2 separate regions of the Homo sapiens genome follow, and region 1 is linked to region 2. Evidence: fine-mapped expression QTL. A gene starts in region 2. The other region holds a variant in brackets. All regions are shown on one strand. Distances are between the middles of the regions.

Region 1 (5,385 bases), 160 kb after region 2:
CTAGTTGAAAAAAAAATCCAAAACAAAATAACACAAAAGCAATAGCTGCAATCAAAAAACAACACAACAGTACAACAAAATTTGAGGTTTAAAAAAATCTGTTCGTTTTCTAGCTTTGTTGTGACAATTTGATTTTCGGTAGGGAGTAGCCATGGTGACAGTCTCTATTACTTCAGGGTCTTAAATAATTTCTTGCTAGTATTTTTGCCCATTTTAGTTAATAAATCTTAATGGTTAAACCAGCTACTTAAAAAAATAAGCTGGGATTATGATATCTTAAAGCTTTTTTGAATTTGTATGAAATGGATGTGTTTGATTTGGTCTACTTTGGAGGTGTGGAGGTAACTACAGACTGGGCCCCCTTCTTGGCAATCTTAGCACAGTAGCCAAGGATTGAAGGGCATGGAGACTGAACAGCCCTCTTATCCTAAACGTGTTCCCCCTAGGCTAGGACTGAGGCACATTGGTGGGACAGTGGAAAAGCTACACTGCCGCTGCCTGTGCCATACCTGTTCTGTGGATATAGAGAGGACTTCAGTCTCCACGCCTTCAATCTGGTACTTTGCATGAGCACTAAACCCACTAAAAAAAAAAAGGAACAAACACAACACAAAAAAAGAGCTCAATATGAAATACTTAAGATCTTAAACAGTAGTGCTCTATGGAAAGGATACTTTTCAGACACTAGGCATCCAGGAAAACCAAAAGAGGAAAGTCTATCAAGACATCCACAGAAATTAAGTTGCTTTTGTCATTACAAGATTCAGGACACAAACCTGAGGATGAGATTGATTTCATCTTCCTTGGTCCATTCAGTACCCCCACTCTGTTTCCAATTCAGGTAGTTGAGCCATTTAGAACGACATTGCTTTTCTGAGCGGGTACCGACTCGTTCAGCCACAGCTGCCCAAGACACACCCTGTGTGACTATGTCACCTGGCTCAGTGCTTGTCAACTCATGAACCACTTCTGCAAGTCTCTTTTCTTCTTCTTCTGTCCACTTCCCTGAAAAAAGGAAATCATCCAGACTACCACTGCTAACTTCTTTTACAAATCTGATTCAGCCCTCTATTTACAAGGACTGATAGGAAGTAAGCAATAGTACTAAGAGTTTGTTTCTGAATGACCCTCTGGTGGAAAACCATATATACCCACTAAGACAGTTTCATTTTACTAGCCCAGTAAGGGTCTCAGTAGAAAAGAAAATAAAGAATCCTAATGGAAAGCACTGACCAATTATGAAAAGAAAAACCACCCAAAACATAACTACAAAGAAGAATGTATTCTCAAGTTACACTAAGTCCTTTATAAACAGTGAAGTGGGAAGAGCTTCGTCAATGGCTGACAGACAAGAAATGGCATGCTTTTTTTCTTACTGTCACCTAAGATTCCCTGCTCTGCAAAAGTAAGTTCAAGAGGCCATTACTTATAGGAATGAATGATGAGGGACAAGGGAAATTACACCAATGGGCTCAACCTATTTTAGTAAAAACTAGGTTTCTACCATCTTGTTTCCTCACTATCCCAACTCCAAGCTACTGTGATGAAATATTAGTAAAGTCTGATACAAGTATTTACTTTTATTCCTGTGTTTTCTCAACCCATAAACCCACTAATAGATAACCCCAAATGTTCCTCTCTGTCTTTTTCTTATGGAGCTAGAGCAGAAAAACAGAAAGGGAAAAAAGCCATTTTTTTTCATCTTCTTTACCTCTGTTTCCATTTTGTTATTACTAGCTGAAAACCTCTAGAAAATTTCAAAAAGACTGTGCTTGCTTTGGGATTCCATTCATCTAGCAAATGTTTATTGAATTTTCATTATATGCCAAGCACAATTATGAATACTGTGGATGGATTCAAGACAAAGTTCTACTCTCCTATTCTAGCATGCTGTGAAAGGATGGGACTACTTTGAGACTGTGCTGTTTCATGGCATGGCCTCATCAGCAGCTGTATGTCACAACATGAGAAGGAAGCAGGCAGATCAATCAATCCCTCAGGTTGGCAATCAGGAAATGCCACTGTGTCCTTCCAAATTTTGTTACCAAAAGGGGTTCTGTACTCACAGCATCTTACATGAAACTCTGAGATCCTATCCTAAATCTAAAGCTTACAGCCCTGCTTCTTTCATTAAGCTGGCCATGTCACAGAATGACAAAGTTGGTAGAAGTTATGTTCTCACTGCCCTGCAGGTAACAGTGATAGTGCAGTAGTTAAGCAGGAAAGAATTCTGATTTCATTTTTAGAGCAGGGGGTTAAGGTCAAAATGTATATGCCCTGGAAGCTAAAGCTAAACTTCAGAAATTTTTTTTTTAATTGCAACAGTGGGCATGGATTGTGGATCCTTCAGAGAACATTATGGCTAAAAGGGCACTATGAGACCACCTACTCTAATCTCTTTACTTTACAGAAGGAAGTGAGGCTCAGAAAGGTTAAATGACAGTTAATAGCAGAGCCTAAATACGTTGTTGGTCGCAAAGATTAGGTTTAACAGTATGATCAGGACATCTGCATGCATTAAGAGGCATTTGTGGTCTTGCCAGGGGACTGAAACACCAATCATAAATTTTTTCTATGGAAAAATATACTTTGAGTTTAAAATAAGCAAAATATTTACAAATCTTTGGAACACAGCTTCTTCCTAATTTGGGACTTACCTGTGACTAAAGTTTTTCATAAACACTCACTGATTAGCTGTTGCTAATGTAAATTCAACAGTTAGATGGGCCTAAATTAAAATTACTTGCTGCATGTATGTCTTCAAAATACTTTCTCAACTGGGGAAGTATTGAAATTGTTACAAAACTGAAACATGTTAGATCTGAATCATCTTGACACTAAGGTGATGTTGTGTCCCTGAAGACAATGTTACCTTATACAAAAACAA[AG/G]TAAAAGATTAGTTTGATATATCTAATAAGCTCAAGGAAAAGGAAGACTAGAAAATAAAGTCTGAACTAAGGTGAATGATCTAAATCGCTCCCCAAGAGCAAAGAAAAGGCAGTATCCTAAGGGGCAGGAGGCTTAAGTGGTGACAAGAAAACGCTACCAGTAGTAGTCACAGTACCTGTGTTGCAAGTATCCTTCATCAGTCGGCACCGATCTTTGACAGAAGATGCACTTCTTCCTAGCGCCGCCCCTATTGTTGCCCAGTCATTGCCATGCTTTATCCGGAGCCTAAAACAAGAGTCTGCCAATCAGCATTTGGTTCAATTGTTTTCTCCCTTTTAATTTCATCATTTATTCTTCATTCTTCTTCTTCCCATTTGACTGGTTTGGAAGTTGTGGGCAGCAATACTTTGAGAGCCAAAGTTTGAAAGTGTGGCCTTTTTTTGGGGTCCACAGTTGTCTGTGGGTGAAAAAAAAACAGGCAGCAATTGCCTTTTTCCTGGGTCAGAGAAGAAATAAGTAACTTGGATATGTGTTCAAAAAAGACCAATTTCCCCTCAGGTTACTGACACAATCTCCCAGGCAAGCCCCAGACTTTCCCTTTTGAGCATATACCCAACAAACTCTTCTTTAGACATCTAAAGTTTCACAGGTCTTTATCATTATAAACAGAATCTACCTTCAAATTTTTTCATGATCCATACAATTCATTAAACCATACTTTAAGGTCTAACTCAATAAAGCAAAATTCTACTTCCTGAGATTCAATAGCCTTTGCAAGGTTGAGTCAGCCCAGATATTCACTGAAACATTTGCCAAGTCACCATTCTAAACCAAGCCATGTAGCACAACCCTGGTTTTCATCCTGGTATATAAATTCCCCAAATTTAGTCTTCAGGCTACCAAAAATGGCCCCTTAATCTTTTCTGGAACCCCTATTAGTGGTCTGAGGAAGCATCTGGTGAATGGCATCAGGAGACCAGATTATACATTATGAGAATGGTTATTTTGTGCAAGTAATGGATTTGATGTGATCTTTTTAAGGCCAATCATGCTTAATAGCACAATTCAATTATACCAGTCTGCCAAAAACCTCTTGAAATTTTCAAAGTAAAACTTTTAAGGACGTAAGACATAAAAAATTAGAATTAATGAAAAAAACTTTAAAACTTACTCCTTGAGCTTCTCAATTTCTTCAGGTGTATATCTAGAAATTCAGAGAAATTTTTAAAAAATCAATTAAAACAATGAATGCTAAAAACCTCAATAAAAATCAGAATTTCATTTAGGGAGCTGAATGTTAAGTCACTTAGCATATAATACTTTTAAAGTAACCCATTTTAAAGTGGATTAATAAAAGTTGAGAATAGGCAGGGTGCGGCTCACGCCTATAATCCCAGCACTTTGGGAGGCCAAGGCAGGCGGATCACTTGAGGCAAGGAGTTCGAGACCAGCCTGGCCAACATGGCAAAACCCCATCTCTACCAAAAACAGAAAAATTAGCTGGTGGCAGGCGCCTGTAATCCCAGCTACTAGAGTGGCTGAGGCAGGAGAATAGCTTGAACTCACGAGGCAGAGGTTGCAGTGAGCCAAGATCATGCCACTGTACTCCAGCCTGCGCAACACAGACTCTGTCTCAAAAAAAAAAAAAAAAAAAAAGTTGAAAATAAATGCTTCTATTTTTATTTTTTTTTAAACAGTAAATATTTTTTAGTTATAATAAAGGTAAGGATTGTATAATTTTCTCTAGAAAAAGAATCAACATTTAAAACATACATTTGCTCCTATGCTGTCTAACAGTTCCTTTATTTCAAACTTAGATTTTGGCACTCTCAAATCATAACTACTCCAAAAAAACTTATGGGTGACATTGTAAACTAGAGCTAAAAAGAAAATCTACAGAAAATTCCCTCAAAGCACTGAACAAATTAAGATTATCTTCATTTCCTTTACCCAGGTATGGACATCTGACATACTCTTGCTCTTTATTACAGTAGGCAAGTACTCAATACAGCCTATGTAATGTTCTTTTTAAAAATGTCCATTTAATAATTATGAAACGCTGCTCACTTTGTAACCATTTGTAATGCATGGAAAGTTTATGAATTGCTAACAAGTCATTTATGCTCCATTTAAAATTTTTTCTCTTTTTCCACTGTCACAAAAACATAATTTAATCCTCTTCAGCTTTCAAATGTACTTTCATTAGCAGGCTGCTGAAGAGCTAGAGAAAGAGCTCCAACATTAGCTCGGCAGTATCTAATAAGCCATACTACTGCCACCTAAAATTTCCAAAGAGAAATTAAAAATATGTCAGTAACAGTATATAATCATTGCATTTGAAGAATCTTAATGATGCCTTCCCATAAATGCTATCTAAAACAGAAATCCATACATTGTTTTCAGAAATGTAGTTCTTTTCCATTCTGGATTTAAAAAAAGGCCACTGACCTAGGAATGCTATATTCTAAAAATAAATAGGAAAAATGTTACCAATAA
Region 2 (5,385 bases):
ATTCCACTCATAGGTTACAGAATCGAACACTATCAAAAACATGGACACAGAAGAGACTATTTTCAGCTAATACCTGTTTTCCTCTGCTTTAACAGAATCCTGAGTTGTAGCTGTGCATACAGCCCCCAGTTTTATCTTTCCTACCCTCTCTTGGAGCTCAGTGTGGCTTTGTGATGACCTTGTGTGTGTCACTTCCAGGTCATGCTCCCAAAAAGGAATGCATGTGTTCTCCCTGCACTTTCCCTCCTTTTTACTACCTGCTAGGTAGTGACGAACTAAACAGCACCATGGCCTCATTTATGGAAGTCATATATGCAGGATTGCAGAATCTCCCTACTAGTCCTGGACTCCTACCTCTAGATGTATGGAAAAAAAAAAACTTCTATTTTATTCATACCATTGTATTTTGGGCTTTCTATTGTAGGGAGAAGAGCTTAGCCTGTACCACTAATATAAAGAGATAATTTGAAAATGAGAAATAATAATTAACTCAAAGTTCTTTAGCTTCTTTCTATCTATTGACTTTGGCTGCACACCATTTTGACCATCCATAAAAATGGGTTTGTACCTAATGGAAATGTAGATCTGGATCCAAGTACAGACTCTGCCACTTTCTAGCCATGTGCCCCTAGGGCAACCAACTTTAAGTGAATTTCCTTATCTTAGAGTGGTTAATCATACAATTCAATAAAGTCAGAATTTGTTTTCAATGCCTGTGAAAGCACATTATAAAAACAAAATAATCCTGCCTGAAACCACCATATTGTGGTAGGCACAATTACTATGAATGGCCCCCAAGATTCCACCCCTGCTAATCCCCAGAACCTGCGAATATGGTGAGATCATTACTCCTGTGATTGTGATATTCTCTACAGAACTGACCTTAAAATAGGGATATTATCGAATTGGAACTAATCTAATCACTTGAGTCCATAAGAGCAAAGAGCTTTCTCTGGCCAGTGGCAGACAAGTAAGACTGCTTTAATGCTTGAGAAGGATTTGTGGTGTCTTTGAAGATGCAGATGGCCTTAAAGAACTGAAAGAGGCTCAGGCTGACAAACAGTAAGGATATAGAAATGTCAGTGTGAATTCTACCAACAATCTGAAATAGCCTGGAGGTGGATTCTCCCCTAGAGCCTCCAGAAAAGAATCCAAATCTACAGAAACCTTGGTTTCGGTTTTGTGAAATTCTAAGCCAAGTACTCAGCTAAGCCCACCCAAACTTCACATTTACAGAAGCTATGAGATAATACATTTGTGTTGTTTTAATTGTTGCATTTGTGTAATTGGTTAAGGCAGCAATAGAAGACTAGTACACACATACAGAGAAGATAAGCTATTCTGTTTACCTCTGTGCCACTTAATAGACTCTAGAAAACTGGAAGCAAGAGTATTAGTTACATACCCACTATAGTGCTTAACCCACCAACCGGTACACATTAAAAATATAAATTATTGGATTCTTTCTTGAAGAGTTTTCTTGAATTCTCAACCACAAAGATTAAGTTAAATAAGATGGTTCCAATAGCACTAAGAAAATGATTATGCTAGATTTAATTAGAATTGACTTTCTGGGGGCAATTAGATATGAATTCACAGAAAGTGGAAAAGAACCACGAACAATACGTGAAGGAATTGTCACATACCAGTACACCAAGAAGATGAACTGCTTGAGACTGCCAGGAGCCTGCTGCAACAATTGTTTTGAGATCACAGGGAACTGGACTAAGTCGGTGACTGTGGGAAGAAAGAAACAAGCTTAACAAATATTTAAGAGGGAAAAAGAAATGAACAAGCTAGTGAAAGAAGGTGGAATGCAGACAAACTAGGAGTTGGGAGTTCCCAAGACAAACTTTTCGTGAATCACTGCAAACACACGCAAATAGTCCACCTGCTAGAGAGCAGGAGTAAATGATCATACAATTAAGTAGGTTTCAGACAAGTACACCTTCCATTAGACGGGTTCAAAGGGTAGAGGATACGTTTTCAGTGGCTGGGTAACAGGTTCGTCGCAGAGTGGCAAGGGGTAGAAGCAGGAGCAGAGGGCAATGAGAGCTCGGAGGCTCTTCCCACCAACCCAAGAGCAACTCTGCACTCAAGAGGCCATCAAGTGAGAGAAATCTAAGCACTACAACGGAGCAGCCCCGCGGCCCAACCTTGAGGGTACCCCTGAGACCCCAGCAGGCGAGATGCTTGATGACACTACTCCCCCACCAAATCCAGGCACCTTTGCGGTTCTGCACGACTTAACTTTCCCCCGCCCCCGAGTTGAAGGATTAGGGGAGGGAGGGAATGCTGCTTCAACGGACCTGTCCGTCCTCACCGCCCGCGCCTCGCCGCCTCTGCCGCAGCCTCAGCCTGCAGCAGCACCGGCTCGCTCCCCCTTGGGCCTCAAAGGTGCGGGAATTGGACTGAAGGCCGCTAGGGTCCCGCCCCGCATTCGCCGGGGAACAGGATTGGATAGAAAGCCGCGAGGGTCCCGCCCCTCACTTTCCGGGGAACGGGACTGGACGGACAGCTGCAAGGGTCCCGCCCCGTGCCTGACGTCGGGGGCGAGCCGGGCCTGCGCGGTAGTGGGACCCGACCCTGTCTCCAGTGGGCGTCTTGGGCCCCGGCTCTATTCTGGGCTGCGGGCCTGGGAAGGGCTCGCCGGGTGCCAAATGAGCTGTCCTAACTCTGCGGGGCTGCAGCTTCCTGCATGATGCTGGGGAGCTTGGCGCCTGACCCAGGATCTAGAAGGCACTCTGGGCAGGCCGCGCTCCGCCCACGAAGGTACCCAACCCTCTGGGATAGATGCAGGAAGCGATGGTTAAGACCCATTTTCACCCAACTTCTCGCCGCAGGTCTGGCTTACCACACGCTCCTCCCCATTCCCAGTGAGCCGCTTTTTGCAGCACCAGGCGAACACTTACACCAGTGCTTTGTAAAGGAATCTTATTGTCCACCCCGTGTCTTGGCAAAAGAACAGTGATCACACAGATTCCTACTTGGGCTCTTTCCTTTAATCTTCGGAGGCTGAGTTTGCCCAACTCAGGTATGCCGCAGCACACTACATCATCTCGGGTCTCCTTGCTCTTCTGCAGCTCTTCATTGCTACCCAAGTTATTTGAATACCCCAGGGATGCTTACCCCCGGGCCTATCTGATGTCTTTTACTGTTGTGCCAAGAAATGGAATCTTTAACCAGAGTGGAGCTACCCAAGTTCTAGAAGATCATAATGTGATTGACTTAGTTTCACAGATTAATTCATTTTGCTTTTACCTTCTGAAATAAAATATACTGTTTCATTTTTAATTTTAAATACACTGTTTCATTTTTTTGTGGAAGGAAAGACCAAATGTTTACACTGACTCTGAACTAGTTATCAAAGATAAAGATTTAGATTTCAAATTAACATGTCATGACAGGCCCCATTCCTTTGTCTGTCGTTTCTAACTCCTTTAGCAGTAAAGTTTGACCTGAAGGGAAGTGAGGCTATGTGTAACTGAATGTTCCCTTTGTGTAAATATTCATAAGTTTTCTACAGAAATATTGTGTTTGATTACAGTACAGCTTGCTGGAAGTGTTTCATAATATATGGCAGACGTACTATTCTAAGAAAAGTTCTGAATTTTGAAACATATCTAGCCAAAAAGATTTTAAATAAGGGATTAGGAATTTGTAGTTGTAATTTCTGAAGGTGTGATAAAGAACTTTTTCTTTCATATATAAGTGCGATGCTCTGGATGATGTTAAAGTTTGCTTACAAGATAAAGTTTTTAAATTGAGTAACTAAAAACTACTCAGAAACCTTCGTTGTATTTTTTTTCTCCTTTTTAGTGAGTCTTGGCATCTCTTTAAAAGTTTATGCATGTTTAATGCCTGTTGGTGCATAGAATTTAGAACCATTTCGCTTCACTCTTTTTCCTACTCTTGTTGTTTATTTCAATGGAAACAAGATGTTTCTGTAAAGATTCCTGAATTATCGGATAGACAAAAAGGTGTGGGAGTGAAAAAATGAATGGAACACAGATTTGAGTATGTAGAAAAAAATCTTTTAAAATATGTTATACTGATAAGCATATGTACCCCAAATCACCAAAAACAGGTATTTTAAAATATGTTTGGCTTCAAAATGTGTGATATATATTTTAATGAAAGATTCCAAATTATGTTGCATTCAGGTTAAACTTGAACGAGTTTGCATTTCTTAGAGTGGAGCGGGAGATATTGGCTGGTAAGGAAGATGTTTTAGGCACTTGAAGTATTTGTGATAGCAAGAAGTTGTTCCAAGATTAAAAATTGACTATGAGTCAAAGTAACTTTTTGGAGGAAAATTTGTAAGTAGTACAAGTGGTGATAATTTTTTAAGTTGCCATTAAAAAAATCTTTTATTTTTGTTCTTCTGTAGTTCTTACTCAGCATACCACAAATTGCAAAAGACTTTATAGATAAGTCTAGATAAATTTCACCATTAAAAAGTATTAAAATGCTAGACTAAGAAGTTCATGTTTCAATCTGCATAACTGGCTTCCTGCTAAGATTTGTGACTCTAATAAGTAAGGAGATATGGTAAATAGCCCTAATCTATGGGAGACCTGTAACCTCCTTTCATTCTGATGTATAAAATGAACATGTTGAAGAAATAATTTTGTGATGTTTCTTCTTTTTAATGGGGGGGCAGTAGAAATATGGTCATTTTGGGAAGCAGCCAACAGCAAATTAAAGTACACTGGACGCAAAGAGGGCAATGTAGCATTAAAAATGAACTCCACTGCCAACAGCAGATGAACAGTGTTTGATACAAAAGGTCTCTTTTTAGTACTAATCATTGATTTGGGGTTGCTTTTGATGATATTTACAGTACATGAAAAGTTGCCACCAAAATCTGAGGGGAAGAGTTAAGATAACTATGATGTTTTTGCATCTCAGAAAAAAATACCTTCTTACTAAACAAAATATAACATTTAAAAATTTTGTTAACATCTTTGTTGAAATATAATTTACATACCATAAAGTTCGGCCATTTAAAGTCCACAAATCAATGGTTTTACTATATTCACAGGGTTATGCAGTCACCATAAGCTAATTTTAGAACATTTGGTTCAAATATTTAAAAAGATTATTTTCTACATACTCAAATCTCTGTTCCACTCATTTTTTTCAGTCCCACAACTTTTTCTATATCCAAAAATCCAGGCATCTTTACAGGAACATTTTGTTTCCATTGAAATAAATAACAAGACTGGGAAAAGAGTGAAGCAAAGTGGCTCTAAATTCTGTGTTACCAACAGGCATTAAACATGATTCATCAACTGACTGATGAATGTATGAACCACTTTTTGTTTGTCCATTCATCAGTTCATGGACATTTGGGTTGTTTCTACCTTTTGTCTATTTAAATAA

Evidence for each region. PIP is the estimated chance that this variant, and not a neighbour inherited with it, causes the effect. A credible set is the group of variants that fine-mapping cannot tell apart.
Region 1: its variant is the best candidate, but not a certain one, in a credible set for the expression of CROT in whole blood (TOPMed, PIP 0.77).

The regions. Positions count from the first base shown.
Region 1 is chr7:87,180,017-87,185,401 of GRCh38, reverse strand. DMTF1 (cyclin D binding myb like transcription factor 1) reads right to left here. Exons shown (of 18, transcript NM_001142327.2): 9 at 4,061-4,093; 10 at 3,065-3,174; 11 at 777-1,005. Among named protein-coding and RNA genes, the nearest start is that of DMTF1-AS1, 30 kb to the right of the region's middle. The variant AG/G (reference allele first, on the strand shown) is at 2,888.
Region 2 is chr7:87,342,692-87,348,076 of GRCh38, reverse strand. It overlaps CROT (carnitine O-octanoyltransferase), which reads right to left and starts at 2,413. Exons shown (of 18, transcript NM_021151.4): 1 at 2,310-2,413; 2 at 1,647-1,737. TP53TG1 (TP53 target 1) reads left to right here and starts at 2,585. Exons shown (of 3, transcript NR_015381.1): 1 at 2,585-3,034. RefSeq lists a silencer at 2,388-2,597.